Linked DNA regions of Homo sapiens: all the other regions are linked to region 1. A link means that fine-mapping ties the variant in region 1 to the plasma level of a protein whose gene starts in the linked region. Region 1 holds a variant in brackets. A gene starts in each other region. All regions are shown on their forward strands.

Region 1 (10,806 bases):
GTTCTCTCCTCCTGCCTTCGCCTCAGCTCAGCATTTTATCTCCCCAACTCTAGGGGAAAAGGAAGCTATCAGACGGCAATGACCTCAGCTTCGTGCCGCTAAAGCTGTCTGCCCCTGCCTGGATCCCCACCCCGGCCCCTCACCATCCTCTTGTGATGGAGGCGGGGGTCCCTCCAAGCCCCTTCCCTCTCGAGGGCCCTGCTCCACACTCCTCCTTCTCTCTGCTGCATCTTCCTCTCTCTACTGGCTCCTTCTGGACAGCATTTAAGTCTGCTGCAGTCTCTGCTGCTAGACAAAGCATCCTTCCTCAAATATGTGACCTTCTCCTTTAACCCTGCACCCACCCCTCATGGCCCTTCCCTGTTTCTCTCCTGGTACACTGCTGGAGTGCCCTACTCACTCCTTATACATGGGTCTTTGTAGCTATTACTCTATTCCAGCCTAGTTTCCACCTCCATCCCAAAGAGAGCTTGCTCTTACCCAGGCCATACATGGTGCCCCTTCACCTCTCTGGGGACAGGCGTCACCAGGGCAAGGCCTCAGTCTCCTTGAAGTGACCTTGCTATAGCCTCAGAGGCACCACGAAGCCAGAGACCTGTGGCCTCCCTGGCTGCTTCTTCTAACCTCCTTTCCTGTATTTTGCTCCTTGGACCATCTCATTCAACTCCCTGCAGGCCACATGCAGACCCAGGGCTTCGTGATCTATAGCCTGATGAGGCCCAGATTTCTGTCTCCAAGTGGGTGGGGTCTTAGGGCCTCAATCCCATTACCCTCAGTATGGGCTCTGAGCTAATGGAGGGATTGATTCAGGAACCACCTGCAGCTGTGTTCTGAGTCAAGCTGAATTGGGGCATGTGGCTTAGAATTGCAGCAAAATGTCCCTGCTCGTTATCTCATCCAGTTGAACTGACTTTCTATACCCAAACACAACCTCCTCTTTGCGGCAGCCCCATCAGCCTGGAAGGTGAGCCACATGGAGCCACGTGGGGGCCCAGAAAACAGGAAGCCTCTGCTTTTCACAGCTGAGCTGAGAGGTGACTGAGCTGAGGGCCCCAGGGTCTGATCAGTCAGCTGAGTCTTTTCCACCTGCAGGAGGTGCAGTTCCAAGGGAATCAGAGGAGGGCAGAGCTGCCGTATTCGGGGGGCTTAGGGCTGGGGAGAGGGAGAAAATGGTTCCCTGCACCAAGCTCCCTCCTCGACCACCATCTGCAGCCCGCTACTCCATGTCCCCTGCTTGGCAGACATGGGTCATTAGTCTACCCCTTACAGCAACCTTTCAGGGCAGGTGTTATTATTACTTCTATATTTTGAGGGGGGAAACTGAGGCTCAAAGAGGCCAAGTCCCTTGCCTGCCTGAGGTCCCTTACCCTGTGAAATGGTGGCAGTGTTAGTGTGGGCATGTGAGTCAGCTTAGGCTACCATTAAAAAAATACCATAGATCACTGATTTAAATAGAAATGTATTTTCTCACAGTTCTGGAGGTTGGAAATCTGGGATCAGGGAGCCAGCGTGGTGGGGTTCTCGTGAGGCCCCTCCTCCTGGCTGCTGATGGCTGCCTTTCACTGCAGCCTCACATGGTAAAGAAGTCTCTGGGGTCTCTTCTAGGGCACTAACCTGATCATAAGAGCCCCCAGTCACTTCATCAAACCTTAATTACCTCCCAAAGGCCCCATCTCCAAATACCACCCCAACAGGGTCTTAGGGTTTCAACATATGCATGGGTGGGGGTGGCACAATTCAGTCTCTAGCAGTAGGACTGGAGTCAAGCACTTGCAAGATATTGGGGGGATACGGGCACGTAACAGCTGCATCTCTGAGAAGCAGGTAACCTGGAATTTGCTGAACTATGAGGACCTCAAGTTTCAGCTGAAAATGACCAGGAGAGCTTTGACTCTGACACGTGGATGAAGCTTCACCTTGTTCTCCAGGAATGGTTGGGCCCAGCACAGGCATCAGAGGGAGGGAGGGGGCAGGGCAGATAGATACATTGTTACCATCATTGCTATAGGGAATGTCATCAGGGTAATATCCCACAGGTGTTTGAAAATGACCCCCAGAATCCTTGAATGAAGCAATGGAAACAGCAGAGGCTGGCTCTTCCCCAGCAGGCGAGGAAGGCCTGGAGAATCATAGATATTTCCTCTCCAGGTCCCCTAGGGCATCAGCTTCCTGGACATGCCTCAGATAGCCTCTGTCCCCTAGTAGGGGAGGAGACTCTGAGGGCACACAGACAATTTCCTTTTGTGGCATGCAGACATTCAGTGAATCCTGTGTGAATAAACCACCTGCCAGAGGCATTGGGAGGACAAGCGGGGAGGCTCCTATGACTGGACATTGGAGGACAGGGCCACCCCCACCCCCTACCCTGCTAGGTGACACTGTGGTCAGGCAGGACGGCTGCCCCTGGAAGGTGCTCACTCACAGTCAGGGGCAAAGTGGCAGCCTCTGAGGGTCACCCCTGGTCACTGTGGGCCATCGACAAAAGAAAAGAAAGAAAAGAAAAACGAGGGGGCATGGGTGGGAAACACCAGCCATGGCTGAATGTAGAGAATGACCCAACAGGGTCGCCACACTCTCCTTTCAATCCCTGTGCACATTAAATATCCTGGGAAAGCGAAGAGGAAATCGGAAAGTTCCACTTAGGAACTTCTTTTTAGTCCCTTCGCTTTTTGTTGACGGCCAAGCATGTGTTTGGAGCAGCCTCGCGGTTATTCCTAGGACTTCCCAGCGTTCCCAGGCCAAATCCTGGGAGGATCTGCATTTTGGGGAGGGGTCGGGGGGGTGCAGAAGCAGATGGGCCTTGGCTCTGGTCCCAGCTTCCAGGCAGGTGCCGGGGTGTCTTGGAGGAATGCCTTTAGGCCCTCAGGGCTGTCCAAGGAGGGCCCTGACAATTTCTTTCCCTGGCCATGGGCTCTAGCCTGAGACCAGGGTGCGATGTGCAGGACAGGGCGGCCAGGCGCTGGAGCCCTACAGAGCTGGCCTGGAAAAGCGGGCGGCGGGGCCGACTGCAGCATAGCACCACCTCGTGGCCGCTGGTCCACATTGCAGCTGTGATGTGAGGCCAACCAGGAGCGAATTTGGGGGAGGCTGTGTCTCCTATAGAACGGATGGCTGGGTGGGAGCGCGTGTTAGCGCCAGATGACGGCAGGGCCCTGTAGGGAGAGGACAGAGAAGTGATAGGGCAAGGAGGAAAGGGAACTCTAGAGTTGAAGAAACAACTTAAAGAAGATACACAGGCAACATGAAGGCCCGTGGCAGGGGGCAGGAGCAGGACAGAGGCATGGGGGGAGGGAAACAGACCGGGCTCCCCGACAGAGCCTTGCTGTTCATTTCAGTCTTGCACACAGCTCCTTCTCCTCTCCCGTGTCTGATGTACTAATAACTAACATTTGTTGTTGTAAGCCTTTTGCGTGTGTTAACTCATTTTATCCTCTATGTGTATTTATATAGAGGTATTATATCATTCCAAACTTATCCATCAGGAGATTAGGCAGCGAGGTTAAGTAACTTGCTCGGACTCACACAGCTAATAGGTAGGACCCAGGGCGGCCTGGCTCCAGAGCCCCTGTGTGAATCTCTGCCCCATCCTTCCTCTGGGGGCTGCCCTCAGAAGGTCCCCATAGACAGTGTCTCAAATAACTCAACGTCTTTGCTAAGCACAGAGTGACAGGGAGGCGGCAGGGCAGACAGGAGGCCCGGGACTGGAGAGAGGCGCCTGGCTGTGAACCCACCTCCGCCCTCAGCCATGCAGCAGCCCGCAGGGCTGTTCTGAGTTAAAGATCACGCCCATGGAGGTATTGTGTGCCATACAAACTGGGAGGCCTGGTTACTGTGTATACCAATTTTATCTTACAGGCTCGCAACATTGGGTTTCTGAATCTGTTTTTTTTTTTTTTTAAAGGGAGATTAGTGCCAACTTTGGACCAAACTCTTGTCCATCCCTGGGTGTGCCCGTCTCTGTCGGGGGAGGACAGACACTAGCCCAGCCCAATCAGGCCCTGGCCAAGGTGAATTCACTCAGCAAACGTTCAAGCAGGTGGTGCATGTCTACTGGGCCTCTGGAGATGCTTTTGTTTTTACTCCCACATCCCCTCTGAAGGCCAGTGTTGTCGCGCCCATTTAATACATGAGACACGCAGCTGAGGTTCAGAGAACTTAGGTGACTCGCCAGTCACACGGCAGGTAATGGGACTCCTGGGCTTGAGAAGAGGCCTCTCCAAGGCCTACGCTGGGGCTCTCCTCTGTATCCTGAATTCTGGCCATTCGGTAGTGGCGACGCCAACCCAGGAGGCCCTCTGAGTTGGAGTGTTGAAGGAGGCGCAAATGCATGACCCTTGTAGAAAAGCAACAAACACACCCAAACAATAAAATAGCTCTTTGTTTATTCACTTTGATTTGGATCATTGGAAATATTAAACAATAAATAAAACAGAGCGGGGGCTGAGGAAAGCAGGATCTTGCTGAAGTCATTCGAATGCATCCCAACCAGTGCTCAGCTGCGTAACGACATGGAGAGAGGCAGGGGGGAATAGAAAGCAAATTTAAAAACACCAACACCCAAACACACAAGACTGCACACAAGAAAAAGTGCTCAAGAAACTTTGGCTTTGAAGGGAATTCAGTGAAGGGAAGCGATTGTGCAGGAGGAAGGGAAGAAACCCACGATCACCCTAAGGGGCGGGGGGCTGGAGGGCGAGGCCCTGAGACAGGCTAGGGTTAAAGCTGACGTCCCACAGCTCAGGACGTACAACCGATGGCAGTTTTGTACTAGGAAGAAGCTGAGTGATGAGGCTGGGTGATGGGATCGCTTGACGGGCTGGGAGGGAGGACAGGAGGTGTAAAGGTGGCTCACCTTCCCCTAGGAAATTCAGTGCTCTTTTGGTAAGAAAAAATAGTCGGTAATGCCCTGATCCTGACAAGCTGTGAGATGCTGTCTTGCCTGTCTCTGCCTTTTCTTCTAAGTTTTCCTCCTTTTCTTTGCACAGGTGTCAGGTAGCACCCCAGGGGTGCAGGAGCTGGTGTTTTCATGACAAACAAAAATGGGGAGGTTGACTCTATCTCAAAACTAGCTAGCCCAGTCCACAGGGCAGGATAATCCTGATGGCGTGTAGCCACATTTGCTGCAAACCAGATGTCTGCGATGGATATAATGATACCCCCGGGGCTCTTCTCAGGGGTGAGGACAGGTGCTGGTTCCTGATGGTGCATGGCTGGTGTCCAGTCATCTTTAGCTGGGCAGTGGCCCCTCGAGGCTCGGGCTTCCCTGCACAAGGTATTTTTGATCCTTGCCAGCGGAGGGAGAGAGAGTTATCTTGGTTTCCTTTCACTTGTTTTCGGGCTGCTTCAAAGCAAACATCCCAGTTCCAAATGTTCTTTGTGGTTTGAATCCTGGCAGAGGCCAGGGTCACATCCAAGTGGGACTGGCCTCTAGCACCACCTTCTGGCCACAGCAGAGAATGGGATTCCATCAAAGCCTCTCAACCAGCCGTTTCCCTAAAGAATCACCCAGATCTTAACTGCCCTCTCCACCTTCTTTTTTTTTTTCCCTCCTATTTTACATTCTATTTTCTCATATCCAGCTTTTCTCTCTAAGCCTAACCAAATGCTTTGGTGAATGATGCTTGGAAAAGCTGGAGTTTTAAAAGGCATTCATCCATTTATGAACTTTCTTCCAGCCCAGGATCCCTGCAGAGAACCAGAGGTTACAAATCTGCCCTCCTTTCTCCCCTAAAAGGTGGCTGAGGGGAGGAGAGGTGCATGTAGCTCCAGCTATAGCAAATCAGTGCCCTGACTCACTGGGGAGACCCAGGGGGTTGGGATGTTGCTGACACCTCATGGGCCACCTCATCAGCCCATCTTTGTAGCTTCAGGTTCAGCTCTGGGTGCTGCAGGCAGGGACCCCTCTGCTCCCTGCCTGAATGCAGGGCCAGTCTCCAAGGAACTCTGTCTGCAGAGTAGAAAGAGCTGTGGGCTGGGAATCAGGGGCCTGAGGGAGCCCCTGCCACTGCCTGCCCAGAACCAGTGCTCCTCATTCTCCTGCTGACAGCATGCATGTGCCTTTTGGCTAACACACACTCTTGTCTAATTCCCAGCCACCTTCACCCCAGGGATGAGTTCCAGTTGGTTTAAGCCAGACTGGTGCATTTAATTCTGGCTGCAACAACTGGATTCTGTTAAGTGCCCATTGCTAAGCCAATGAGCTATCTGCTGGGCTGTGGGAAAGAGAAATGCAGTCTCCTGCACGGGAGGGTGTGAGAAGGCCACCCAGGCAGCCTGCAGCTAGAGCTCGGCGCTGAGAGAGCACAGGAGAGTCAGACACCTCCATTCTGGTTACACTTTTTCCAGATGCTGAATGGAGACTCGCTGGGAAAGCCCGCCTCCAGACAATTTCAACATAGCGCCGGTAACACCCTAGTTTTGCTCAAACTCTGACTTGTGCTATCTGTCCCAGACAGTTCACGACTGCCCGTCACTTCCCTCCTTCACACTGCACCAGGAAAAGGCCACACCTCCCTACACAGCAGCAGCCTTTTAGGAAATGTGCTCTACAGGAAAAGTGGTTTTTCTGATTAAACATCAGGAACTAGAGTCAACAATCGCTGTCCTCTCCCGTGCCTGTCACGCTCCACTCCCCACCCAGCTGCAATGTGGCCTTGATTTTCTCATCAGTAAAATGGGAAAGCTGGATTTGGAGGCTGGAAGAGATCTCACAGCTTGACCACCCTAGTAGGAGGGAGGGAGACCAGACGGAGGCCAGGCAACCGACCCAGGCAGCATCTGGCTCAGACGCAGACACATCTTCATGTTGAGGGACCTATTCTTACACAGCAAAACCCAGAGAAGTCGACTGCTCAGCCTGAGCCTGTCATCCCTATATAGACTCAGCTTTTAGGAGAAGAGGGAGAGTTGAGGAGATAGCATCGCTCTCTGTATCAGTGTCTGATGATCTGGAGTCTGCCCCTGGGGTCACTCAGTCACTCAACAAACATTTGTTGAGCTCTTAACGTCATATATGGGTGTGAGCTCTGCCCTTCGAGGCTGTATGTTCTGAATGATGACTCAGTGATTTACCAGCCTTTCTCAGAAAAAAGAAAAGTCTTTAAAGTTTTGGAGGATTTTAAAGCTGAAACAGGTTTTCGGTTTGTTTAACACATTCCCCATTCTGAACCTTTGAGAATCTAATAAAAGCTATGGTCCTTTCTCCAGAAAAATGCTCATATGCAGAGATTCAGGGAAAAAACCAAACTTGGCACGCAACTTCCGGGGACTCTTGTGAATGGCCTGAAGCCACCTGTGACCCATGACTGATGTCCCCAAGTTCCTCCCTCCCCGTGTGCAGAGGGGGCTCCCCCGAGCCTGGGAGCACAGGCCCCATGCCTCCGTCACACTCCACCAGGAAAAAGTCACGCCTCCTCAAAGCAGCAGCGACCTTTTCAGGGATATTTTCAACAAGAAAGTGGTTTTTCTGCTTAAACATTAGTAACTGGAGCCAACAATCACCGTCCCCCACATTCCTGTCACTCTCCACTCCACACCCAGCAGCAATAAGGTTTCACGGAGTTTTGGAGACTCCTAGCCTGAGAATAAATCCAAGTCCACAATGAGGAAGAAGGAAGGTTGGGTTGGGACGGGAGGATGCTGAGGACATTCCACAAACCATCCAAGCCCTAGATACCCCCAATATCCCACGTCCGAGGACTCCTACAAACCTCCCTTAAGCACCCCCACCTAATTTCCCAGCTACTGGGTGAGGCAAGCTTCATTAAAACACCAGGACCACCAACAGAGCCAGGGTGCAAACAATGTCAGTTGAATAAAAAAAAGAAATCAATAAATAATCAGGAAGGCTAATGAGGAAAAGAGAGTAGCTGGGGAGTAAGAAGATGAGGTATGTGGCAGT[T/C]ACCATTCCTGGGATGTCCTTGACCCAGACCCCCAGTGACAGCCCCAAGATGGCCAGCAGGGACTTGACCCTGAGCTCAGGCCCTTGGGGAAAATGCTGCTGGCAGCCTCCTGTGTGGCTTTGGAGGTTACGGGCACCATATTGAACAGTCTGAGAATGAGAATGTACGTTCCATTCTGACGCACTGCTGGGTGGTGTTGAGTATCCTCAGAGCTTCGTTGCAATTCAGGTGCTGGCTCAGGAAACCAGAAAAGATGTTCCCAGCTACGGAGCAAGCAGGGCCGCTGGTGGGGGTCCCTTTTCCCAAGTAAGGGCTTTTGTTTCATTTCAGCCAATGCATGCTTTTCTTTCCCAAATACAAAGGCACATGGAAGTGGTCAGATCCGCTCTCGCCACGATTAGAACCATGAGACTGACTACTCAAAGGAACAACTGCTTGGGAAGAGGCATCTGCAGGAGTCAGAAACACGGTGCCAAGTTTGGGGTTTTTTTTCTTTTCTTTTTTTTTTTTTTTCAGAGACAGGGTCTCACTCTGTTGCCCAGGCTGGAGTGCAGTGGTGTGATCACAGCCCACTGCAGCCTCGAACTCCTAGGCACAAGAGATCCTCCCTCCTCAGCCTCCCTAGTAGCTGGGGCTACAAGTGTGTGCCACCGTGCCTGGCTAATTTTTTTAAATCTTTTATTTTTGTAGAGACAGGAGTCTCACTATGTTGCCCAGGCTGGTCTTGAACTCCTGGGCTCAAGTGATCCTCCCGCCTCGGCCTCCCAAAGTGTTCAGATTACAGGTGTGAGCCACGGCACCTGGCCTCAAGTTTCTGTGAAAATCTTTGGGGTAGGAGCCTCTGGTGGCTCATAAATGAGCTTTGGGAAGATGACAGGGTTATCACGCCAAGCAAGAGGCCAGGCTTCGTGCAAAGAAGGGCAGCATCTCGCCCCGAGCGCCAACACCGCCTGGCACGTCTCTGTGCTGGAGGTAATCGCCACTCAAGTCTCTGCCCATCTTCCTGGGAAACTGTCCTGTCTCTCAGAATATAGGCATCTTCCACATTCATTCCCCAAGCTTGCCCCAGGAGCCAAAATGATTTTAGTGTGTGGAGGTTGAACCTTTCCCAGCGTCTCCCCAGCTCTAGGGCAGCAGTGGGGGGACGTTGTCCCCACTCAAGACAGGTTCCAAGACATGCTCTGCCACGCTGGCAGAGCTTAGTGACCTTGCTGAGTAGATGCTGCCAACGGCTGGGTGCAAGAGGCTGTGAGCGGTGCCCAGGCACACACCTGAGGCTGCCCCTCCAAGCTCCGGGATGGAACGGCTCCAGCAAGATGCTGGGGCTGGAAATGCAGAGGTGTGACAGTGCGTCCATCCTCAGCCCTTCACTGCGTCATCTCCCCTTGAAGATCCGGATTTTATTGATGGAGGCCAAGGTGGCCGTCACGTTAGACTCAAAGTCTGCATCGTGCACCCCCGTCTTGCGAAAAGCCCCCGCGGATGGGTTGTTCTCCCAGTAGTGGTGCCAGTTCCCTTTGCTGTCTGCCCCGAAGCCGTACAAGTCCACCTGTGGGAGCAAAGCAAAGATGAGAACCAGACAGCAGGGCTGCTGGTGGCACCTCTGAGAAAGGAAGCCTGTAGGCGTTCCTGGAATCCCACAGGACCATAAACAGCATTTCCAAGGACTCTGACTAACCCTTCATTAAAAACCCTTCTCTACGTTCCTGGAACTCTCAGAGTCTTGGTGAAGCAAATGCAAGTTAAGTAAAACTCAAGTCTAATTCCAGAAGCACCCTGAGAGATTACTGCATCTGGGTGGTCTCAGGGGCCCGGGTCTTACCTCTGCAGCAAGTGCAACCTATTCTCCCAGGATTGAGGAGCTACAGAGGGAAGGAATAGGAAGGAGGGCGTGGAATGGAAGAGAGTGGAAGGAGAGCAGGGCTTTGGGGCCAAGCAAACTGCCCCAAATCCCAGCTCTGCCACTCCGTGGTGCCCTGGGCATGTGAAGTCACTTCTTTGAGCCTCACTTTCCTCATCTGGAAAATGGGTCCAAGAATCATGATTGCAGTGAGGCAGAGGGCAGGGCTGATCCCTTTCTTCTCTGTGGCCAACATTCATCTGGTCCAGGCGCCCTCAGGGCCACTAGACCAGGCCTTTCACATACATGACAAACCCTGTGCATTTATTCTGAGCCCAGCACCCTGCTGGCTGTACTGAAGTTCAGGCAGAGCTTGATCAGATGCCAGCTGGGCAGCTGCAGGGGGAAGCAGCCTTGGAGCTTATAGCTTCTTGGAGTCACTGACTGAGTGGTCCTTGTTGGAAATGGGGCTAAATTCAGGGCTCCCGCAGCACAGAGGAGGGAGGAGCTATGCCCTGAGAGGTCAGAGGAAGCTCTTCAGAGGAGGTGGCATGTGAGTTGGGTCTTGGAAAATGAGTACAAGATGACCAGAAGGAATTGCATGGAGGGGCTTCCAGGGAGAGGACGTGCTATCTGGGCTGCAGCGTGGAAGATAGATTGGAGGGGTGGGGACAAAGAGGGGACGGGGACAGCACCATGCCACATGTGGCTTTCTCAGGAAATGCAACATGGACATGGGCCTGCTCCAGGGCAAGAACGTTAGGGCCAAATCGGTGGGACGATGGGAGAAAGGGCTCTTGAGCAGAACCTCAAGCAAGGGTCTGGGACCAGCTGGCTGGAGGTGGGTGGGGTGGGGAAATGACAGGGGCACCCATGTTTCTACCTGGGAACACCAGGGTGGGGCTGAGCCTGGGGACCTGCCTTGCAATGCCTCTGACCCTTTCTGAGATTCCCACCAGGCACCAGGCAGGGTGGGGCTGGGGCTGGGCTGAATGAGACAAGAAGGGACACGTGAGGGCCCTGCCTGAACCCAACATCAGGGAGGAAGTGGGGGCTGTGTGGCCT
Region 2 (10,806 bases), not on the chromosome of region 1:
ACATCCATGGTTAACACTACTTCAAACTGATTGACAAAATTAGGGGGCAAAACGAGAAAAGGTGTATTTGGTTGTGCTATTCTTGACACATAACCCAGTTGATTCACTGTTGCCAAAGCCCACCAACTCCACATCTGAGACCTTTGATTCCATTTTATGATTTTTAATCAACTTCATTGAGGTATAATTTACATAAAACAAATGGAAACATTCAAATTATCCAGTTTCACGAGTCTTGACAAATGTATACACCATGTAACCACTACCCCAATAAATATATAGAACATTTTCCCCCAAAAGTTCCCTTTTGCCATTTTGCAGTAAATTCTCCTACCCTCTTGCACTCCCCACTCCCGATAGTCATTACTTTGATTTCTATCATCATAAGTTGATTTTGCTTGTTCTGGAACTTCATATAAATGAAATCATATAATATCCACTCTATGTGCCTAGTTTCCTCTGCTCAGCAAGTTTTTGAAATTCATCCCTATTGTGTGTATCATTAATTTGTTCCTTTTTAATGTGAAGTAGTATTCATTGTATGGAAGTGCCACAATTTGTTTAACCATTCAGCTACTTATGAATTGTTTCCAGCTTGTAGCTGTTATAAATAAAGCTTCTATAAACATTTATGTACAAATCTTTGTAGACATTTTTATTTTTCCTGGGTCCATACTTGGAAATATAAGGTCATATGGTAAGTCTCTGTTATGTAAGAAGTTTCTAAATTGGTTCTTTTCCATGCAAACCTGACACACACACAAACAAACCCTGACATAATTATTATAGACCTTTGGGCTAATGGACTAAATGACATCAAAATGAGGCCACATGGTCTGGAAACATGAGGGGGAAAGGATGTCACAGAAGTAGTAGAGGAGGTGGTATCAGATGGGGGACTTGAGAAAACAGAAGTGTTTTCAACAAAACCTGCAATTATTGTTTGTCTGAAGTAAATTACCTTCTTCATAGCAGAACATTTGGCTATATGAGAAAGTACTATTTATCCTAGAGAAATGATCATCATATAGGTAAATGGATTTTATTTGACATCTGAAAGAACAGTGCTAGGAAAATACTCACCGATGAACACTTTGAGAAAGATCGAGGAACGCTTTAGTCTTCATTATGCACCAACAAATAAAAGGTAACACGTAGAGTGGACGGAGCATAATTTTAAATCTCCCCAGAACTGGGTTCAAATTTTGCTTGGCTTTGCCATCTGTATTGTTTTATCCAATCATTTCCCCCTCTGAACCTGTCCCAACATGTGCAATTGTAAGTAATAATAGTTTACTCATGGCACTGCTGGATGGTTAACCAAGGTTAAGTCTCAAAGTGAGAGTATCAATGGAAGGTGATCCCTTCAATGTAAATTTCTTCTTTCTTCCCTCCTTACCCTTGTGCAATTCTAGTAAGCTTAAATTGTAAATCTGCTTAACTTGCAAGCTGTTAAATCAAGGGAAACAAACTGCAGATGGGACTACATTGGAGGTAAAGAATCCAATGTTTATACAATTCTGAATCTTGGTAAATGACCTAATCTTTGCTAAAGGAAAAATACTACTGAGTGGGGAAAGAATAAGGAAAACAACTAAATGATCTCCACATTGCTAATACATGAGAATTTCATATTGCTTTTACAGAATTTTAAAACTGTATGTCATGACATGGCTGTATTTATAGATTTCATGAAAAGTGGCCAAGTCTTGTTATAGGAAACATTCATTCATGTCATCACCCATGATCATTCATTATTGTTAATATTTATAGAGTACTGTGTGCCAAGCAATGGGCCAAATGCTTTACATACATTATTTCCTTTATTCCTCACAAAACCTCTATGAGGTAATATCATTACACCTGTTTTATAAGTGGGAAATTTGTGTTTCAGAGCGGTTGGGTGCTGGACCACACTCTCACATGCACACACACTCTCACATGCTCACATTCATACACGCACATACACTCTCACATGCTCATACACATTCATATACATGCACACACATGCTCACACAGGCTTTCATACACACACTCACATGCTCACACACATTCATACATGCACACACATGCACACTCATTCATACATGCACACACATGCTCAGACTTTCATACACACACACATGCACACACACATTCATACATGCACGCACACTCTCACATGCTCACACACATTCATACATGCACACACTCATGCTCACACATATACATGCACACACTCACATGCTCACATTCATACATGCACACACACTCTCACATGCTCACATTCATACATGCACATACTCTCATGCTCACACACATTCATATATGCACACTCACATGCTCACACACATTCATATATGCACACTCACATGCTCACACACGTTCATACATGCACACACACGCTTACACACTCATACATGCATACACTCTCACATGCAAACATATTCTCACATTCTTGCACACACATACTAAAATGAACAAACTAGCCACAAGATTAAAAATTATGGCTCAGGAGTCATGCAGCTAAAGGCTACAAGATTCCTAACCTTCCCAATTGCTCCTATAAATAATGTTACTATTGCAAAACCTAAATTTGTGTTTGAAGTTCACACATGAACACAGTCTCACATGTGTGCACACACACATTTTCTTGTTCCTGCCCCTACCTCCAAAGTGGAGGTAGCAAAAATTCACTGTTGTCTCAGAAAGTTAGATCTTGGCAAATAAATATTTGCTCACATAAGTCAAGCATTGCATTTCCCCCTGGCTGCTGAGCCTGTTCTCACACACACAGGGAAGTCAGCTGCAGGGCAGGATGCCATTTCATAGGTGAACATGTCACATGGAATTAGACCACTTTTTCCCAGGTCCTGCTGAACCTGCACCTAGTGAAAAAAAAACTACTATGTCTGCTGCAATACACTGATACCTTGATTAGTGAATTCCTGAAGAACTCATGTATAAGAAATGGGAGAGTCCACTCATTTGTTTTCATTTATTAAAAAATACCCTTATTCTGTGAAGCAGAATTACCTGTATTTGCAGCTGCATGACAAAAATGCCTCAATATAAAGCTCCCCCCAACCCCCACCCCCCGCCCATTGGCTATTTTAAGATAAGTTGGCAATAAATTTAGGCTGAGTTAGAATGTAAATATGAAATAGACTGGTTCCTCAGATGTGAGGCATAGATAGGCACATTACATACTTTGGTAGCATAGAGGAAGGTACCAGGTATGATGCAATGGCAAGGGAGATTTTCTGGAGGAATGTTGCCTGGCCAGTCTAACAGAGGTGTTAAGATCCTAAGCACTAGTTCTACTGCCAGCAAGCCATGTGGTTTGGGGCTAGTTTCTTAACTTCCCTAAACACCAGCTGGTTCACTTGCAATGAGGGTGATAATATTTGCTCACAGTTTTGTATTCCTTGGCTTTCAAGAAATTGCACAATCCTCTTTCCTTTCCACTACCTTCTCCTTTCCCTTTCTCTGTCATTTGTACTTTCTAACGTGGGGCTCCTCAAGTCTCACACCTTGGGCTTCTCTATTTCCACATGCTATGCTCCCTTGGTTCAAACCTTGCCTGCAGTCACATCTCTACCCACTCCACCTCAATCTTGCCTCCGTTTCAATCGCATGCTGGACATTTCCACGTAGACACTCTGCCAAGGCATTTGAAATTCAACAAGTGTAAAGCTGAATATGGATAGTTCTTTTAAATAGGGCTGCTAATCTCACAAACTCCAAACTTCCGAGTCCTCTTCAACATCTTTTTCCCCACTGTTCCTTATCTAATCAGTTGCCAAATTCTGTGGCTTATTACTTTGAAACTTGTTTGGTCAGAGCAGGAATGGAAATTCAAAAGTCTATAATAATTGTGTCAGGAGTTTTACAGAGCAACAGGACTGGAACTCCTTAATATAGATTTATTAATTTTAAAACTAAAAGACATTTTTGTTCTCTAAACACCTGGACTGTTGTAATTAGCTAAATTGGATCTTTGCTTACACAGCCATTCCCATTCCAGCATCTTAGATGCAAATTCCAAATTACCCAGGTGCTTCCTCCTTACAAGTGTCAACCGTCCTTTAATGCTTCTGAATGGTGTAAAAGGCACAGGCCTTGCCTTTAAGGCTCTCTCAAATCTCTTTCCAGCCTCTCTTACCCTCTTGTTCCATTGCCATTGCCTCAATTCAGTTCTCCATACTCTCCCTAAACTAAACTCCTTACTATTCCTGGAATCAACAGGACTGACCCCAAACCTTTGTTCGTATCTCATCTCTTTTCCTATTTTTGCCCTATTGCATTGACACTTGTCATATTTAGTTGAATCACTGGGCCTTTAGCCTTCCCCGCTCCAATTACCACACTCCCTTCTTTCCTTTCTGAAGCCCCATACCACTTTGGTTGTGATATTTGTATAGCATTTATCATGGAAAACCTCCCTACTAGATTGTAGATTCTCAAACACAAGTATTGACACTTAGTGGGTTTCTGTATACTAGGGAAGTTTATTAAACAGTCTTTGATTTAGTCATTGTATGGTTCCTGGGATAAGAGTAAGAACCGTGGTCCCTTGCTCTGTCAAAATCATAAACCTATTTTCTTTGTATTTTGACTTAATTACATAAGCTTGTTTTGGATTGGAAGGTCTATAGAGACTATTTTAGTGCCAAATGCTATTTAATCAATGCAGAAATAAGCCCTTGAGAGGTGCAGTGACTCAGCTGAGGACACACTGATAGTTTCTGGTAGATAAGTATGAAGCCTTGGAACTACTTCTCATATCATAAGCCCCTGGGTTCCCAAATCACCTCCCCAAGTACCTAATTCATCATCCTCTGCATACAAGAAATTTTTGCTCATTCCAATAAAAAGAATGTAGTACGGCAGGACAGGAGAAGTACAGGTTTTGGAATCAAACTAGGTTTAGATTCTGACCTGGTCGCTAGTTAGTGCATGGGCTTTGGTAAACAGCCTCTCAGCCTGTTTCCTTGTCTGCAAAATATGGATAGTTATCTTCACTTCATGAAGTTGTGTTGGTGAAATGGTATAATGTGTATAAAGCAACTGGAACACAACAAATGAGGCCATTTATTTAAAATAATCTTTAGTAAGTTATAAATTCACATATTTGCTTTTTTCTGAGGAATGCTTAGATTTTATCATAGATCTCTTTTCTAAATTGAGTAAATACATAGTGGATTTCTTTGTTTCCTTCCCCTCAGAATGTTGAAATTTGGCTGATTGTAACTATTACTTAAGACTCTATCCAGTAATTGTTCGTAAAATTTCTTTTCTTTTTTTTTTTTTGAGACGGAGTTTTGCTCTCGTCCCCCAGGCTGGAGTGCAATGGCGCGATCTTGGCTCACTGCAACCTCCGCCTCCCAGGTTCAAGTGATTCTCCCGCCTCAGCCTCCCAAGTAGCTGGGATTACAGGCACCTGCCACAACGCCCAGCCAATTTTTGTATTTTTAGTAGAGACGGGGTTTCACCATGTTGGCCAGGCTAGTCTGGAACTCCTGACCTCAGGTGATCCTCCTGCCTTGGCCTCCCAAAGTGCTGAGATTACAGGCGTGAGCCACCACGCCCGGCCAAAATTTCCTTTTAAAAAAAGTTATTGCCAATAACTAAGTATGCTGGAAGGTGAATGCTTAGGACATTTAGTGTCACTGAGCTGTGTGATAGAGATAATATTTTTGACACTTTGCAGAGCTCATTGTTTTCTCTCCATATAAAGCTATGACATTCACATAATAAACATGTAGAGAGCTTTAACAGACTTCAATGTTAAGTCTTCTAACAGCTGCATAACTGGTCTTGCTTGAACCTGTCTTTTTCATAATGCTACCTTGCCTTTCACACCAATTCTGTGAGCCCAAGCAGGAATGAAGATTACCTATCTCTAATGGCAGGACAGAAGGGAGTGGTGGTTAAGGTTACTGGAGGTTATTGGGGGAATAAATGAAGACCTCATGCCACTTCTAAACACTGCCAGGACCTAACATACCTTGTGTTTTTATATCCAATATGGGAGTAAAGGTTAGATATTTTAACATCAAATATGAGGATGACACTAGATGGTTTTAAAAGCCCCCCACCATAACTTCTAAACTCCACAATGTTCGAATATTGTTAGGTTTCAGTGAAATCCTACAGTAGTCCCTTGCTTGGAATCACTGTAGGATTGGCTCCAGCAATGGGCAACACAAGGTTTGGTTCTATACAGTAGGTATGGGTCAAAGAAAATGCTATGATTGAAAAATTGCTGTTTTCCTCCTCAAAAAGCTCATACCAACCAGGAAAGAGCTATCAGAAAACCTTCAGGAAAGAATATAATGATAGGATATAACAAATACCCCCACAGCTGGTCCATAGACCAAAGTATAATTCCAAGTAGGGAATTTCACTTAACGAGGTAAGGCATTTAAGGGAAAAGGAATCTAGGCTAGGACTCTGCTAGCCAGACCCAGATAAATTATTACAGGGAAGCATGTTCTTGAGGCTATTCTCTATGAAGAAGGGCAACCCACCTTGCCATCTATATCCTTTCTGTTTTCGACAGGGGTGGTCCTAAGCTGGATAGATCTTTACTCTGACCAGTACCATATAGGTCTGTGGTTCTCAAACCTGGCTGCACAGTGTGGCACTTTAAGTAATCCTGATACCCAGTCCCATCCCCAAAGATGCTGATTTAATTTGTCTAAGGTGCAGTTTGGGCCTCTGGATTGGAACCAACCCATATACCCATCAATGATAGACTGGATAAAGAAAATGTGGCACATATACACCATAGAATACTACACAGCCATAAAAAAGGATGAGTTCATGTCCTATGCAGGGACATGGATGAAGCTGGAAACCATCAACCTCAGCAAACTAACATAAGACCAGAAAACCAAACACTGCATGTTCTTACTCATAAGTGGGAGTTGAACAATGAGAATACACAGACACAGGGAGGGGAACATCACACACGGGGGCCTGTTGGAGGGTGGGGGTTAGGGGAGGGATAGCATTAGGAGAAATACCTAATGTAGATGTTGGGTTGATGGGTGCAGCAAACCACCATGGCACGTGTATACCTATGTAACAAACCTGCATGTTCTGCACATGTATTCCAGAACTTAAAGAATATATATTTATATATGTATAAATATATATGAATATATAAATATAAATATATATATAAGCTCCCCACGTGATTCTAATGTGTGGCCAGTCTTGCAAACCTCAGGCTATTTATTCTAAAGGGTTTGTAACAAGCCTTCCTCTTAAAATCCACCCCACCACCATTCAGCGTTTTGGGGTCTGTTTGTTTTTATTGTTATCCCACCCCACACCGCCCCGAGGCGCGCGCGCGCGCGCGCACACACACACACACACACACACACACACATACACACACGCACACTGGTGAATTTCTCTCTACAGTCAGTCTGGAGTAATCCCAAAGTGGTGTCTTTCGTAAATAAGGAGAACCCGGGTGAAGAAAATGACTCCCACCCGAACAAGGCATGAACAATGTTCACTCCCTACTGTGTTATTCAACCTGTTTCCCCAGGTCTCTGTTTTCACATTAGAGAGTGTTCTAGGAGATGACGCCCTTCCTCCTTAGTTATTTCCCCACCCTCGTGCTGGCCTTTGACAGACCTCCCAGTAGAGGGCCCAAGACGCGGGTAGAGCACCGCGTCTCAGCGCCTGAGTCTCAGCCCCCGAACTCCACCGCACCTGCAGGTCCCCTTGGCAGCACTCAAGCGCGGGGATGCTCCGCTTAGACGAACTCACGTGCGGGCAGCAAGGCCTGCGATACTTGAGCACCCCTCCCCCTCTCCCGTTTACACCCCGTTTGTGTTTACGTAGCGAGGAGATATTTAGGTTTCTAGAAGGCAGGTCATCGCAGGCCCCACCCAGCAGTGGAGAGAGTGAGTCCCAGAGGGTGTTGCCAGCGAGCTCCTCCTCCTTCCCCTCCCCACTCTCCCCGAGTCTAGGGCCCCCGGGGCGTATGACGCCGGAGCCCTCTGACCGCACCTCTGACCACAACAAACCCCTACTCCACCCGTCTTGTTTGTCCCACCCTTGGTGACGCAGAGCCCCAGCCCAGACCCCGCCCAAAGCACTCATTTAACTGGTATTGCGGAGCCACGAGGCTTCTGCTTACTGCAACTCGCTCCGGCCGCTGGGCGTAGCTGCGACTCGGCGGAGTCCCGGCGGCGCGTCCTTGTTCTAACCCGGCGCGCCATGACCGTCGCGCGGCCGAGCGTGCCCGCGGCGCTGCCCCTCCTCGGGGAGCTGCCCCGGCTGCTGCTGCTGGTGCTGTTGTGCCTGCCGGCCGTGTGGGGTGAGTAGGGGCCCGGCGGCCGGGGAAGCCCCTGGGCTGGGTGGGAGGTCCAAGTCGGTCTCTGAGACACGCACAGGGGCCGGCGACTTGGCAGGTGGGGAGCTTGGCCCGCGGTCGTGGTTCCCGCCGTCCTGTGCCTTTAAGGCTCTCGCCGCTCACCAGCATTTGGGGCTCCTGCTGTGTCGGCCCCCAGCTGACTTGGCTTTAGGGGTCGGCGTGGAGGGTTAAAGAGGCCCCGGCTGGGTTTGCGGAGCAGCCAAGCCTGGCAAAATCGAAAGGGAGGGCTCAAAGAGACTGTATCCTTAACCCCCAAAAAGCTGGTCTAAAAGGATGGGAGGCCAGACCGCTGACCGTTCCCCACTCTCGACAGAGTCCAGCCGTGTGGAGCACACGATGCTGCAAACTTGCATGTCATCTCTTTCAGGTGTGGCATTTCAAGGGGGCTTGTGTCTTGAAAACAGCAACTGTGAGGACACTTGATAGTCATTTCCTTCAGTTCTGCTTTTGTCTCCCTAGGTGACTGTGGCCTTCCCCCAGATGTACCTAATGCCCAGCCAGCTTTGGAAGGCCGTACAAGTTTTCCCGAGGATACTGTAATAACGTACAAATGTGAAGAAAGCTTTGTGAAAATTCCTGGCGAGAAGGACTCAGTGATCTGCCTTAAGGGCAGTCAATGGTCAGATATTGAAGAGTTCTGCAATCGTAAGTTCTTCATCTTTTTAGAAAAGTTCTGGGAATGGAATGTATCTTAAATTTATTTTTATATACCTTTGGAGTGACTAGTAATTGATAGTTCTCTAGCGTTACTAAACCCCAGGGTATACCCTGTTGGCACGTCACACTCCAGCTAATTGAAGACATTTACCACCCTGAGTAGGTCCTGCTGCTTCATTAAGAGTTTTTCTTCCTAACACTGTACCTCTTGAACGAACTAGTAGAGAAAATAAACAATAGGTATTGTTTAGGGAGTAAACATATAAAATATATTTGGCAATTGCCTTGAGACACATAGCGTAAATGATATGTTTTCTTAAGTATTTTATAAAGTAGGACTTACCAAATACAACTCTGTGGTGGCATTTTTAAAAGCTCTCAATATTTACTTCAAAATCTGTTATACTTGTACATATTTATAGGGTACATGTGATATTCTGGCACATGCATACAGTGTGTCATGATCAATCAGGGTAATTGGATAGCCAGTACCTCAAACACTTGGTGTTTGTGTGGAGAATATTCCAAATCTTCTCTTCTTGCTACTTTGAAAAAATATATGTATATATATAAATTGGGATATATATATAGGGAGAGAGATATATATAATTGGGATATATATATATAAGGAGATATATAATTGGGATATATATAAGGAGATATATATAGGGAGAGATATATATATATAGGGAGATATATATATATAGGGAGAGAGATATATATAGGGAGAGAGAGATGTATAAACTGGGATATAGACAGGTAGATAGGTTGATTGTTAAAAATGAATAAGAGGCCCAGTGAAGAGTTGTTTGGGGGCTAACACAGTAACCGTGTTTGATACTGATACCTAGTAGAATTAAAAGAAATGAAGATTTCTTGTTTTAGGTGAATATACATACAGTCATCCACACCTTATGTGCCCTTTGATTTCATAAAATATATATTGGCATTATCTTGGAGGAAAAAAATCTGTTACTTACATAGCCCTGTATTAGCTTTGAGATATATGAGTAGAGATAAAGATAAAGAGACCCGATAACCTGACTTTGAACAACTTAAATCAATAGAAGCTACTGTAAATACAGAAATTGGCACAAATACCTTTAGAAGCCATGCGTGAAATAGGCTTTAACTTTTTATTTTTATCCACAATAGAGGCAGTAGGATGAAGTACATAGTCTTTGCACATGTATCATGTTTTAACTCTTCCCCATGTTATTACTTTATCCAATCCTCCAAACAACCTTATGAGGTAAGTTGGGGCTCTTACACTCTTTTTATGGCGGAGGAGACAGACCCCAGTAGTTTAATAACTTCCTCAAGAGCAGCAGCTTTTACGCCAAAACCAAGGTGTAAACTTGGGTCTTCTGACTACAAATCCAATGATGACCCTTCCACTTGACCATGCCTCTCTAGATTCACATTTGTGGGCAATCTGTTTACAGATGTAAATACTTTATGTATACAATTTGTGGGCAATCTGTTTACAGGTGTAAATACTTTATGTATACAATTGACTCATCCTTGCCCCCAGGGCTCATGGGAATTAAATGAGTTTGTACGTAAATAAATATTAGCTGCTATTATTGTTGTGCAGGACATTAGTCCAGGGGTCTGGAAATACCCTATTCCTGTACTGTATGGTGCTGTGTAGTTCTTTAGGGCAGGGTAAGGAAACCAACATTTATTGAATGCCAGAACTGGGCCAGGCAACTTAAATTTTTTTTTTTTTTTAAGTGGGGATAGTGATATGTGTGTACCAACTCTACTTC
Region 3 (10,806 bases), not on the chromosome of region 1:
AGGTAGCATAATACCTCCTTAATATTTGCTACAGTAAATGTATTATACAACAATAAAAATGACATATGTGGAAGCCCCTCCCACGGAGGGATGATTTCATCCTCTCACTATCTGGTGACCTCATTCCTCCTCACCCCTGTGTTCACTGGCTCTAACGGTGCCATCACACTGATTAGCAAGCAAGGCCCGGAGCGGCGGGATCACTCCCAGGCCCCACCTTCCACCTCTCCTCTTCCTGGAAGGCCAAAAAACAGTCCCACAGAAGTGGGGCCAGGGCAGGGCTCCGACAGAGGCGTCTCCAGTGACCACGTCCTATTTGTCTCAACACTTGCCTAACAGAGTAGGTCAGAGACTGCTCGTTTGCCTCTTTCGCCCTAAAACCAGGCTGCTTCTGGCCCAGGCCCCATCTAGACCCCATATGGGCCCCATCTAGGCTGTGTGGAGGAGCAGGCTGCAGGGGGCCCAGACTCCAGCTCCAGAGAACCCGCCGTGTGGCCGCCCTGAGCTGCTCAGGAAAGATCCTCGTGGGGCTCCACGCCGCTAGGAACCTTGCACTGAGAATCCTGAAACTGGTGGTCAGAGCGGGCAGGATCTTGGAATGCTAAAATTCAAAAGACTGAGCATCTCAGGGTTTGGGTCAAGTAGTCACCAAGAGAAGGAAAGACCCCAGATAACTGAGGCACAGGCAGCAGATCTAAGTCTGGGTAGACAGGACAGGCCCTGCCCTGCCCTGCTGTGCCCTGGGAGTCACATCAAACCAGGTCAATCCCCAGCTCTGTCCCTTAGAAGCTGTGTGACCTGGGGCAACTCACCTCACCTCTCTGAGCTGTGGGTTCCTTAGCTGGAATACAAGGACAATGGTAGCACCCGCTTTTTATGGGGTTGTTGTGGGTTGAAGAGGGCCAGGGAAATGCTGAGTCCTCCCAGAAGCCTTTCCAGATTGCCCCAGGCACGATTAGTCACCTCCCGTGTTTAAATCATTTCTGCTGTTCATTTATTTTCTAAAAATGTATTCACATTGACTCCTAAACTTCCAGAAGGCAGGAACCACAGCTGTCTTGCTGATCAGGCCACAGGCCCAGGATTCAGCCGATGGGCAGGCACACACCCCTCGCAACACTCGCCCCAGTGGCTGGCAACCACTGTGGCTGTCTGCTCTGCTGCCCCCACCAGACCACAAGTTTTTGGAGGGCAGGAGCTCTCCTGGGTCTCCTGGCATCCCCAGGGGCCTCACTAAATGCCTCTGCAGAAGAGGACATGTGACTGAGGCAGGGGAACGTGCACAGAACTGCACAGCACGTGCTGTCTTCACACTTTTCACACCACATTTGCCAGCTGACACTTTGCAACCTCTTTCCGTCATCTACCTCAACTCACATCAGGGAGTCTCTGTAGACATTTTTTCCCACTTATCATCGCCCTTATGAAAGGTTTATTTATTTATTTAATTTTAGAGATAGGGTCTTTCTCTGTTGCCCAGGCTCGACTACAGTGGTGCAATCATAGCTCACTGCAGGCTTGAACTCCTGGGCTCAAGCGATCCTCCCAAGTAGCTAGGACTACAGGTGCATGCCACCAGACCCGGCTACTTTTAAATTTTTTGTAGAGATGGGTTTTCCCCATGTTGCCCAGGTTGGTCTCAAACTCCTGGGCTCAAGCAATCCATCTGCTTCAGCCTCCCAAAGTGCTGGGATTTATAGGCATGAGCCACGGTGACCAGCCCTCCTCATGAAAAGTTAATAGCACAGATATGCTGTATATCTGTTTAATGTTTGGTGGCTTGCAAACCACAGTGTTAGTTGAGATTTTTTTGTTACACCCCCCTCCCTACCCTCCACCCCACCAAGAACCAAGTTACACCTGTTGGAACCCAAACTTGCTGGCCTGATCCAGAGGCAGTAAGGTACTTGGCACAAATGAATTCAATGAGACCTACATCTGGTTAGTTGAACAACTGTCTTTAAACAGTTTTCTAAACACCCCTGTGTAGACAGACAGATTAACAAACACAGACCCCCAACACACACACACCAGCCATCTTATCTCCTTCTAGACCACTGGCCCCCACTGCCATCTTCCTGTTCAAGTTCAGCAAAGGAAGCCGAGACACAGGCCTAGGGTCACCACGAACTCCATGGGCATCCTGCAGCCAGAAGCCATGCCGCCAGAGGCAGCTGCTTCTCCCCTTCAAGCCTCAGTTTTCTCATCTGTAAAAGGGGCACTGTCCACCCTCCAAGGTTCTCGGATGATTGATTCCCCAGCTCCTCTGAATGCCCCACTCTGGGCCCAGCCTAGCAACCCAGCCCTTCCGCTCTCTGAGGTTTAACTCCCCTGGCTGCTGGCCAAGCCTGCTGAGGGAGGCATCAACCACCCAGGGCACGGCCTCGGAAGAGACTCTGGGGCTGTCTGAGGGCCTGGGAGCCACCTTCTGAGGCCCCGGCCCACTGAGGGGCCTGGCTCTGGGGGCCTCAAAGTCAGAGATGGAAAAAAAAGGAAAACAGAAGAAAGAGGAAAGAGGAAGAGAATTCCAGGCAACAGAAGCCCAGATATCGACAATATGGGGTGTGTGTGTGTGTGTGTGTGTGTGTGTGTGTGTGTGTGAATGTGTGTACAGCAGGGCACAACTGGCCCCCACCATTTCCTTTTAGTGTCCTGAAAGTATCTCAAATACAAACTAATAAGAGTATTCTAATTTTTTTTTTTTTGAGACAGGGTCTCACTCTGCCACCCGGGTTGGAGTGCAGTGGCACAATCTCGGCTTACTGCGACCTCCCCCTCCCAGGTTCAAGTGATCCTCCCACCTCAGCCTCCCAAGTAGCTGAGACCACAGGCATACACCACTACACCTAGCTAAGTTTTTGTATTTTTGGTAGAGACGAGGTTTCACCATGTTGCCCAGGTTGGTCTAGAACTCCTGAGCTCAGGCCAACCACCTGCCTCGGCCTCCCAAAGGGCTGGGATTACAGGTGTAAGCCACTGCACCCAGCCAAATATTCTAATTATTATTATTATTATTGTTTTCCCTTTTGCTAACAATAGTATCTTAATTCTAATATTTTAATAGTTTGCCACAGACAAGTGTCATTTCCTCAGTCTTATAAAAAGTGGGAAGAATGCATCTTTCTCTGAAAAGAACTTTTTTATGCGTCCATAACATGCAGCTTCAAGAGAAATCCTGCACTCCCCCTACTTTCTGGAGTCTTCCAGACCTAATCTCAGCTCTGCCCCTAAACAAATCCCTTCACCTCTCCCGACCTCAGTTTCCCATCCAGGAAAGGAGAGGATAAGATCATTTCTAGGGAAACACTCATGGTTTCTCTGATTTTCAAAATCAGAATGCCGCCAAGCCAGACGCTGCAGGCAAACTGGCCAGGGAGGGAAGTAAGTTAATGGGAGGCTGGGGCTGGTGGGTCACACCTGTAATTTCAGCACTTTGGGAGGCCAACGCAAGAGGCTTGAGGCCAGGAGTTTGAGACCAGCCTCGGCATCAAAGTGAGACCCCATCTCTAGGAAAGGTAAAAATATTAGCTGCATGCGGCGATGTGCGCCTGTAGTCCCAGCTACTCAGGAGGCTGAGGTGGGAGGATCACTTGTGCCCAGGAGTTTAAGGCTGCAGTGAGCCATGATTGTGCCACTGCACTCCAGCCTGGGTGACAGAGTAAGACCCTGTCTCAAAAAAAGAAGGAAAAAAAAAGTTGGCAGGAGCAGGATTCAGAAGAGTCACAGAATAAGGCCACAGACTCCAGGAAGACTTTAGTCTTGAGTCGGAGGAGCCTCAGTTTGCCCTCCCCAGGTGCTGCAGCTCAAGAAGGGCCTGGCGGTCCTACCCGGGCCTGCCAGCAGCTATAAGGCAGGCCCTTGGCCCATGGGGACCTCCAGCCACTCCCTGTGGTTTTGCAAGCCAGCACTTACCACCGTGCTCAGCAGAGCATGGGACAGCTGCCTCGTGGGCCCAGAAGAAGTGGCTTCTCTGCTTTAGTGACAAGGTCCCAGCCCACGCTGCCAGGCACTGCTGTGGCACCCCCTGCGGCAGTCCCGGATCCGAGCAACCCCCAATGGCTGTGTGTGGAAGGAGGAAGCGAGAATGTGGTTACTTAGGCAGGGCCATGTGACAGCCCACACCCCATTGTTTGTGACAGCTTTGGTGACAACATTGATAAAGACAGGGTGGTAGTGGGGCACCTCCTAGGTCTGACACTGTTCTTGGGTTCCCATAACTGTGAAAACACTGAGAACCAAGTAGAAGCTTTCTGGGGAGAAGTTCTTCGGTTTTGGGTGGGGCCCAAACTGAGAAAGGCCACAGCATTACTTCAGCAGCAATGGACAGTCGGGGCCAGAGGGAGCCCCCTGAAGGACAGGAGTGACCAGAGAAAAAGGAGAATGGTCTCGCTTCTTGCCCAAGATTGGTGGGGCGTGGGGAGGGGTGGGAGGTGGTCAGGGAGCAAAAAACACAAAATATGAACCTTCAAAGGGTTTGCAAATATGGTGTATTTCTTCTCGCAGGACTCAAAACACTCTCTGTAGATGCACAGCACAGGCCCTTTCAGCTGCAACCAAGAGCCTCTCTAGGGAGCTGGACTACAGATACCACAAGGGCAAGTCCTGCTTATCTTATTTCTTCATCCTAAATTTGTTCATTTGACCAACTCTGGCACTCCAGACTGCATGCCCTGAGGTCTAAAGGCCAGCAATTCTGGGCTGTGGCCCTCTGGTAGCCCTCCATCCAATGGGGAGGCCAGCGAGTAAACAATTCGGTGGAACATCATGCCACAATGACACAGCGCAGTGAGTGCCATCCTGCGGTGAGCAAGGGAGGGGCCTCTCCTTCCATCCTGGGTGGGGGAGGGAGGTTAACAGGAGGAGCTTCCAAGAAGTGGCACTTGAGATGACAAGCCAGGTGGGCATCCCAGGCAGAGAGCACAGCAGAGGCAAAGGCTGGGAGGCCTAAGAATACCCAGACACTTCCAGAAGGGAGGGAATAGGGGGGTCTCCCAGGATCTGCCCTGCGGCTTTGCACCAGGCAAGGGCTCAGGACATGCACAGAAAGATACTCATATCTTGCCTTGCACAAAGTTGTTTTTTTTTTTTTTTTTTGAGATGGAGTTTCACTCTTTTTGCCCAGGCTGGAGTGCAATGGCACAATCTCGGCTCACCGCAACCTCCGCCTCCCGGGTTCAAGCTATTCTTCTGCCTCAGCCTCCCGAGTATCTGGGATTACAGGCATGTGCCACCACCCCGGCTAATTTTGTATTTATAGTAGAGATGGGGTTTCTCCACGTTTGTCAGGCTGGTTGGTCTTGAACTCTCGACCTCAGGTGATCCACCTGCCTCGGCCTCCCAAAGTGCTGGGATTACAGGCGTGAGCCACCGTGCCCAGCCGCACACAGGTTGTTTTAAAATGAAAACCAGAGACCCAGCAGGTGTTCGCCATGACACAGTCTCAGCCACCTTAAGAAGCTGCAGCTGGAAACAGCCAAAAGCTCACCCTGCCGGCACGGACAGGGAAACTGAAGCCACAAGAGGGGAAGTGAGACCCCTAGAACCCAGGCCCCTCACCCTTCCCCAGCAGGTTTGGAAATAGCCATCCTTCAGGGACAGGGGACTGAGAAACTCTAAACACACCCAAGACTGCCTGCAGGTCACTCTCTGATTAGCGGAGGTGAGTGGTTGCAAGCTGTCTGTCACATCCAGCCTGCCACGTGGTTTTGTGCAGCTTGTGAGCTAAGAATGGTGGTTACATTTTTAAGTGGTTGGAAAATGTTTTGTGATGCATAAAAACTGTGCGAAATTCGAGATTCCGTTTTCATAAAGTTTTCTTGGGACACAGCCACACTAATTGGTGTAAACATATTGTCTCTGGCTGCTTTCACGTTGCAGCGGCAGAGTTGAATAGTTTCATCACCTGCAAAGCCTCACAACACAAACGCTTAACGTTTCCTGAGCCTGTGGTCAATGCCAGACCCTGTGGTAGGTGCTTTGCATACATCAGCTCATATAATCCTCGAAGCTGCCTTTAGAAATGAGGAAACTGAAGCTGAGAGGGAGAATGTGCCTTGCTCAAGGGCACACAGAGTAATGGCAGAGCCAGGACTCAAGTCCAGGCACATGAAATAATGTTCTTGATCTTAACCCCTAGCCTGGGATGGTGCAGGCTGAACGGTGAGCTCCAGCACATCAGCAATTACTATATGTAAGGAAAAAGGAGTAGCTTAGCAGCAGGTAAGCTATTTCTTCTGTGTGTGTGTAATAGGGTCTTGCTCTGTGGCCTAATCTGGAGTGCAGTGGCGTGGTCATAGCTCACTGCAGCCTCAAACTCCTGGTCTCAAGCAAGCAATCCTCCTGCCTCAGCCTCCCCAGTAGCTGTTACAGGAGCACACCACCACGCCCAGCTCCAAGTAATCTATTTCAAGGTGAGACTTGAGCAGTGAAATTTCCTTCTCAGAGGAGCAAATATTGCTAAGATAAATCTGGTGTATGTCGTCTGTGTGAAGACCATAAAACCACACTTCACCGCACCTGACATCTGTGAGAGTCAAAGACTCAAAGTGAATATGTTTCTGCTTCTAGGAATGAAGCCCAAGAAAAATACTCCAAGTTGCCTTCCAAGATTGAAGCAATGATATCTGAGGTGAGAGAAATATTGGGAAAAAACACAGACTCCCCTACTACAGAAACCTGTCCCTTGATGGAATGTGACGCAGGCATGAAAGTTATATTTATACTGAATGCTTATAAAGCACTCAAGACCTGTTAGGTAGAAAAGAGAGGGCACAGAAGTATATAAACAGCATAATTCAAGTGTGCTTGCATGCTGAGAGGACAGACTGAAAGAAATGCTGACGGTGCCTATCTCTGGGTGGCATAATTATTAATGCCCCTTTCCTTTTAAATATATTTTCTTTTCTATATTTGTATATAGAAAAAATGTATATAATGATGTCTATTTTACTTTTTTTTCTTTTTTTTTTTTTTTTTTTTTTTTTTTTTGAGACAGAGTCTCACTCTGTCGCCCAGGCTGGAGTGCAGTGGCACGATCTCAGCTCACTGAAACCTCTGCCTCCTGGGTTCAAGTGATTCTCCTGCCTCGGCCTTCCTAGTAGCTGAGATTACAGGTGCTCACTACCATGGCCTGCTAGTTTTTGTATTTTTAGTAGAGACGGGGTTTTGCCATGTTGGCCAGGCTAGTCTCAAGCTCCTGGCCTCAAGTGATCCACCGGCCTCCACCTCCCAAGGTGCTGGGATTACAGGCATGAGCCATCATGCCTGGTCTACTACTTTGTTTAATTGTTACAACTGCCTCATGAGGTAGGTACTATTAGTATCCCCATTTTGTAGATTAAAAAAAATGTTCCAGAGAGGTTAAGAAACTCGCCTAAGGTCACAGAGCTAGTAAGTGGCAAAGCCAGAGTCTGAACCTAGGGTGTCCTATGAAAGAGCCTGCATTCAATCACAATAAATATTGGTTCAATATATAAGTGATTCCAGCTCCTCCTTGCAGACCTTGCCTGCTGTGATTGGTCTAAGAGGACCCAGTTCTCCCCACCTCCTCGCAACACCGTGTGAGCCTGCTTGGGGTGTGGAGCAGGAATTGCAATCAGCAAAGCCAGTGGGTGTTAGGTTCCTCTCTACACTGGAGCCCAGTAGTGGGCTAGCCTAGGAAGCAAGAGCTGTTTATGGGTCTTCTGAGAAAAATGTGCTCCTGGTTGTAACTAACTGCCTGCTACTGTTGGAACAGCCCCATGTTAAAGCAAAAACATGGCTCATTGGGCCCCTACTTGGAGCTCTCTTACAAGTGGATCCTGAGCAACTAGAGATTTGGTATTCAAACAAACAACCTATAACCTCTTTATACTTAAATGATCATCCGTGCACTAAATTCAGTCTTCCTTCCATTCGCTGATGGATGAAAATGCCTGCAGCCTCATGGTGGTCCCCAGTCCCCAGAGGCAACACCACAGCCTGTACAGCTGCATGTGTGCAGTGGTCTATTTAATTGCGTTTTGCTTCTTTGTTGTTTCGGGGTGGGGAACTGTTCCCACCAGTGACAAGCACAGCTGTAATAAAGCCTCATATTATAGAGACAAAGAGAGGAAGGCTTGGAGGCTTGGGTGCCAAAAGCCAGCGCAACTTAGCTTCAGCCTGGTATTTACCAAGCTTAGGTTGGTCAACAGTACAGTTATTAAAGAAAATGAAAAATTAAACATTTGTGGAATCCTGAACATATGTGGCTAGGCAAGGACTATAACTGACAGGCCAGGTATAGCCTGAGATTTTATAATCTATGTGTAACTTGTCAGGAACTGTTATCCCTCCCCGACCAGGTGCTGGCTTCCTATGCAAACCTGTGTCCGCTTCCCTAAAAATGGGGAAAACAGGGGTGACGTCGCTTATAGAATCCCACCTCCCTTGCCAGTGGTCACTGTCCCTCCAAGGAAACTGAGGCTCCCTGGTGGCGCAGGAGGGCACAGGCGGACCGGAGCCCAGCCAGACTGCAAAGCCCATTAAAAGCCTGTTCCTTCCTCCGAGGAAAGCAAGAGTCTTGCTGGTTGTGCCGCTTGTTTCTCAGGGCAGTGGTCTTTTCAGTTTACTCACAATGGGACCTTTTGTTCGAATGAAAGCAACGGTCTCATGAAATAGAATAAGAACAGAGCTGCTCGCAAGCAAGGCCCAGAAGGGAGGAGGGGAAGTCACGCCCAGCTGCCTGCCCTCCCCCGTTCCCCTGCTGCTAGGGGGGCTCACGGGCTACAGCTTGCTGATTTGAATCATCCAAAGGGGAAATGGTCCACTGTGGGCCTGCTCCAGCCAGGATTCAATTCCCTTTCTCAAATGGGAACAGAGCTCTGGGGAGTTCACTTTCGGCCCCAGATTTTCGCTGCCAATCTGGGCGGCACTAGGAACCAGTTTCTGGGCTGGAGACTGCAGCATGAAGCCATTCCTCCAGAGTGGAAGAAAACAGGGGCTCCCCAGCTCACTGGGTCTGCTTGGGCTGGGGGTAGCCAGCGCTGCTGGTCCCAGACCTGGAAGGCCAGAGGGCAAACAAATGTTAGAAATGTACTCCAGACTCCGTGATTCTTCCCCAGAGGGTAGTGGCTGAAGGAATCCATGCCTCTGGCAGACATCCTCAATCACCTGGCCTCAAAGACCCCTGGGAAGGGGTCTTTAGGGGAGAGACCTTGGTGTTGTTTGAGGAGGCCAGGGGCCTGGCAATAGGAGTCCTGGGATATTTTGTGGAATTTAAGATCAGAAATAAAGCTGGACCTTAGGCATGGACTCGGGGAGCTACAGGGACCCAGAAGCCCTTTCTTCATCACTGTGTATCTGCTCTGCCTGCGTGGTCCCTGGCTTCCCCAACTCCCAGGCCCCCATAAAGGAAAACCCAGATCTGATGCCACTGATGGTGGCTCCAAGGGGCTCATAGGTCACCTGGAGTTGACTGTGCTCCGGGACAGTCTTATTCTGTGAGCAAAGTACCGCTGGGCGGATAATGCAATATGTGCTCCCATCCCAGATAATGTCTACATTTTCAACTATTCAGTCTTTCAGTAAGTACTGATTGGCACATCATGCCAGATTCTGGGGATCCTGGTGAAGGAAACCAGTGCCTGTCCTCATGCGGCTTATATTCAATTCAGGGAAGACACTCAAAACTCCAATGAGATGATAGATCAGCTATCAGTGCTACTAAGGTGCTACGGGCACTATTTACATATGGGGGTCAGGTGAAGTGCTGGGAAGGGCAGACACTGGAGGTGGGGAAAGGATGGGCACTCCCGAGAGAACAGCACCTGCGAAGCTCAGGGGTAGAAGGCCTCCTGAACACAAGAGAACATCAGGAGAGGATGAGGGGCGGCAGGGCAGGCAACACGGGGCCTCCTAAGCCAGTGGTGAGGATTTAGTTTTTATTCTGAGTGGGATGGGAAACCATGGAGGGTTTGAAGCCTTAGACACAGGGGTCAATGAGCTTTTTCTTAAAGGGCTACACAGTAAATATTTTAGGCTTTGTGGCCATACGATCTCTGTTGCAGCTACTCAACTCTTCAAGTATAGAGCAAAAGCAGCCACAGACAAGGCACAGTGTGTTCCAATAAGCTTTACTGATGGACACTGAAATTTGAATTTCATATCATTTTTACTTGTCACTAAATATTGTTTTTTCCCCCAACCATTTAAAAATGTAAAAAGCCTTCTTAGCTTGTGGGCTACACAGAAGCTTCCGGCAGGTTGGAGTTAGCCCATGGGCCTTAGCATGTCTTCCCCCACCTTGATACCTGAAAAGGTGACTATGGCTGCAGCTCTGAGAACAGATTCAAGTGGGTGGGGGAAGCTGGGTTAGGAAGCTGTGACTGTTAACCTTGTCAACTTGACTGGGCAATGGCGTGCCCAAATATCTGGTCACGCGTTACCCTGGGTGTGTCTGTGAGGGTTTTCTGGATGAAATGAACATTTGAATCTGTGGGTTGAGTAAAGCAGGTTGCTCTCTCTGGTGTGGGTGGGTGGATCCATTCAGTTGAGGGCCTGAATAGAACAAAAAGGCTGAGTAATAAGGAATTCCTTGCAGGCGTGTGGCTCATGCCTGTAATTCTAGCACTTTGGGAGGCCGAGGTGGGAGGATCACCTGAGGTCAGGAGTTTAAGACCAGCCTGGCCAACATGGGGAAACCCCATCTCTACTAAAAATACAAAAATTAGCCAGGCGTGGTGGCGCATGCCTGTAGTCCCAGCTACTTGGGAGGCTGAGGCAGGAGAACTGCTTGAACCCAGGGGGTGGAGGCTGCAGTTAGCCAAGATCGTGCCACTGCATTCCAGC

Alleles and levels. Alleles are on the strand shown, and positions count from the first base shown. The strength of an association depends on the size of the effect and on how common the allele is.
As copies of T replace C in region 1, the plasma level of the protein whose gene starts at base 8,133 in region 2 goes down (weak association).
For the plasma level of the protein whose gene starts at base 4,067 in region 3, allele T in region 1 goes with a lower level than allele C (weak association).

The links. PIP is the posterior inclusion probability: the model's chance that the variant is causal. The UK Biobank Pharma Proteomics Project read protein levels with antibody pairs (Olink). The fine-mapping took linkage between variants from a reference panel, not from the people measured, so its PIPs are less certain.
Region 2: it holds the start of CD55, and the variant in region 1 is fine-mapped to the plasma level of the CD55 protein (UK Biobank, PIP above 0.99).
Region 3: SELPLG starts here. The variant in region 1 is fine-mapped to the plasma level of the SELPLG protein (UK Biobank, PIP above 0.99).

What each region holds. Positions count from the first base shown.
Region 1 is chr8:133,450,488-133,461,293 of GRCh38, forward strand. It overlaps ST3GAL1 (ST3 beta-galactoside alpha-2,3-sialyltransferase 1), which reads right to left. Exons shown (of 10, transcript NM_173344.3): 10 at 4,361-9,450. The coding sequence ends at 9,277. Among named protein-coding and RNA genes, the nearest start is that of ST3GAL1-DT, 110 kb to the right of the region's middle. RefSeq lists enhancers at 2,480-2,980, 2,981-3,481. The variant T/C (reference allele first, on the strand shown) is at 7,901.
Region 2 is chr1:207,313,546-207,324,351 of GRCh38, forward strand. It overlaps CD55 (CD55 molecule (Cromer blood group)), which reads left to right and starts at 8,133. Exons shown (of 10, transcript NM_000574.5): 1 at 8,133-8,320; 2 at 8,837-9,022. The coding sequence starts at 8,221. LOC107985251 (a long non-coding RNA gene) reads right to left here and starts at 8,584. Exons shown (of 3, transcript XR_007066838.1): 1 at 8,141-8,584. It overlaps LINC02942 (long intergenic non-protein coding RNA 2942), which reads left to right. Exons shown (of 4, transcript NR_186170.1): 4 at 1-636. RefSeq lists enhancers at 3,039-3,868, 7,559-7,768 and a silencer at 8,329-8,408.
Region 3 is chr12:108,629,828-108,640,633 of GRCh38, forward strand. SELPLG (selectin P ligand) reads right to left here and starts at 4,067. Exons shown (of 2, transcript NM_003006.4): 1 at 3,913-4,067. It overlaps MIR4496 (microRNA 4496), which reads left to right and starts at 5,983; the gene lies at 5,983-6,043. It overlaps LOC105369968 (a long non-coding RNA gene), which reads left to right. Exons shown (of 3, transcript XR_007063449.1): 2 at 4,504-6,410; 3 at 6,568-10,806. RefSeq lists enhancers at 1,981-2,130, 3,539-3,588 and a silencer at 4,829-4,878.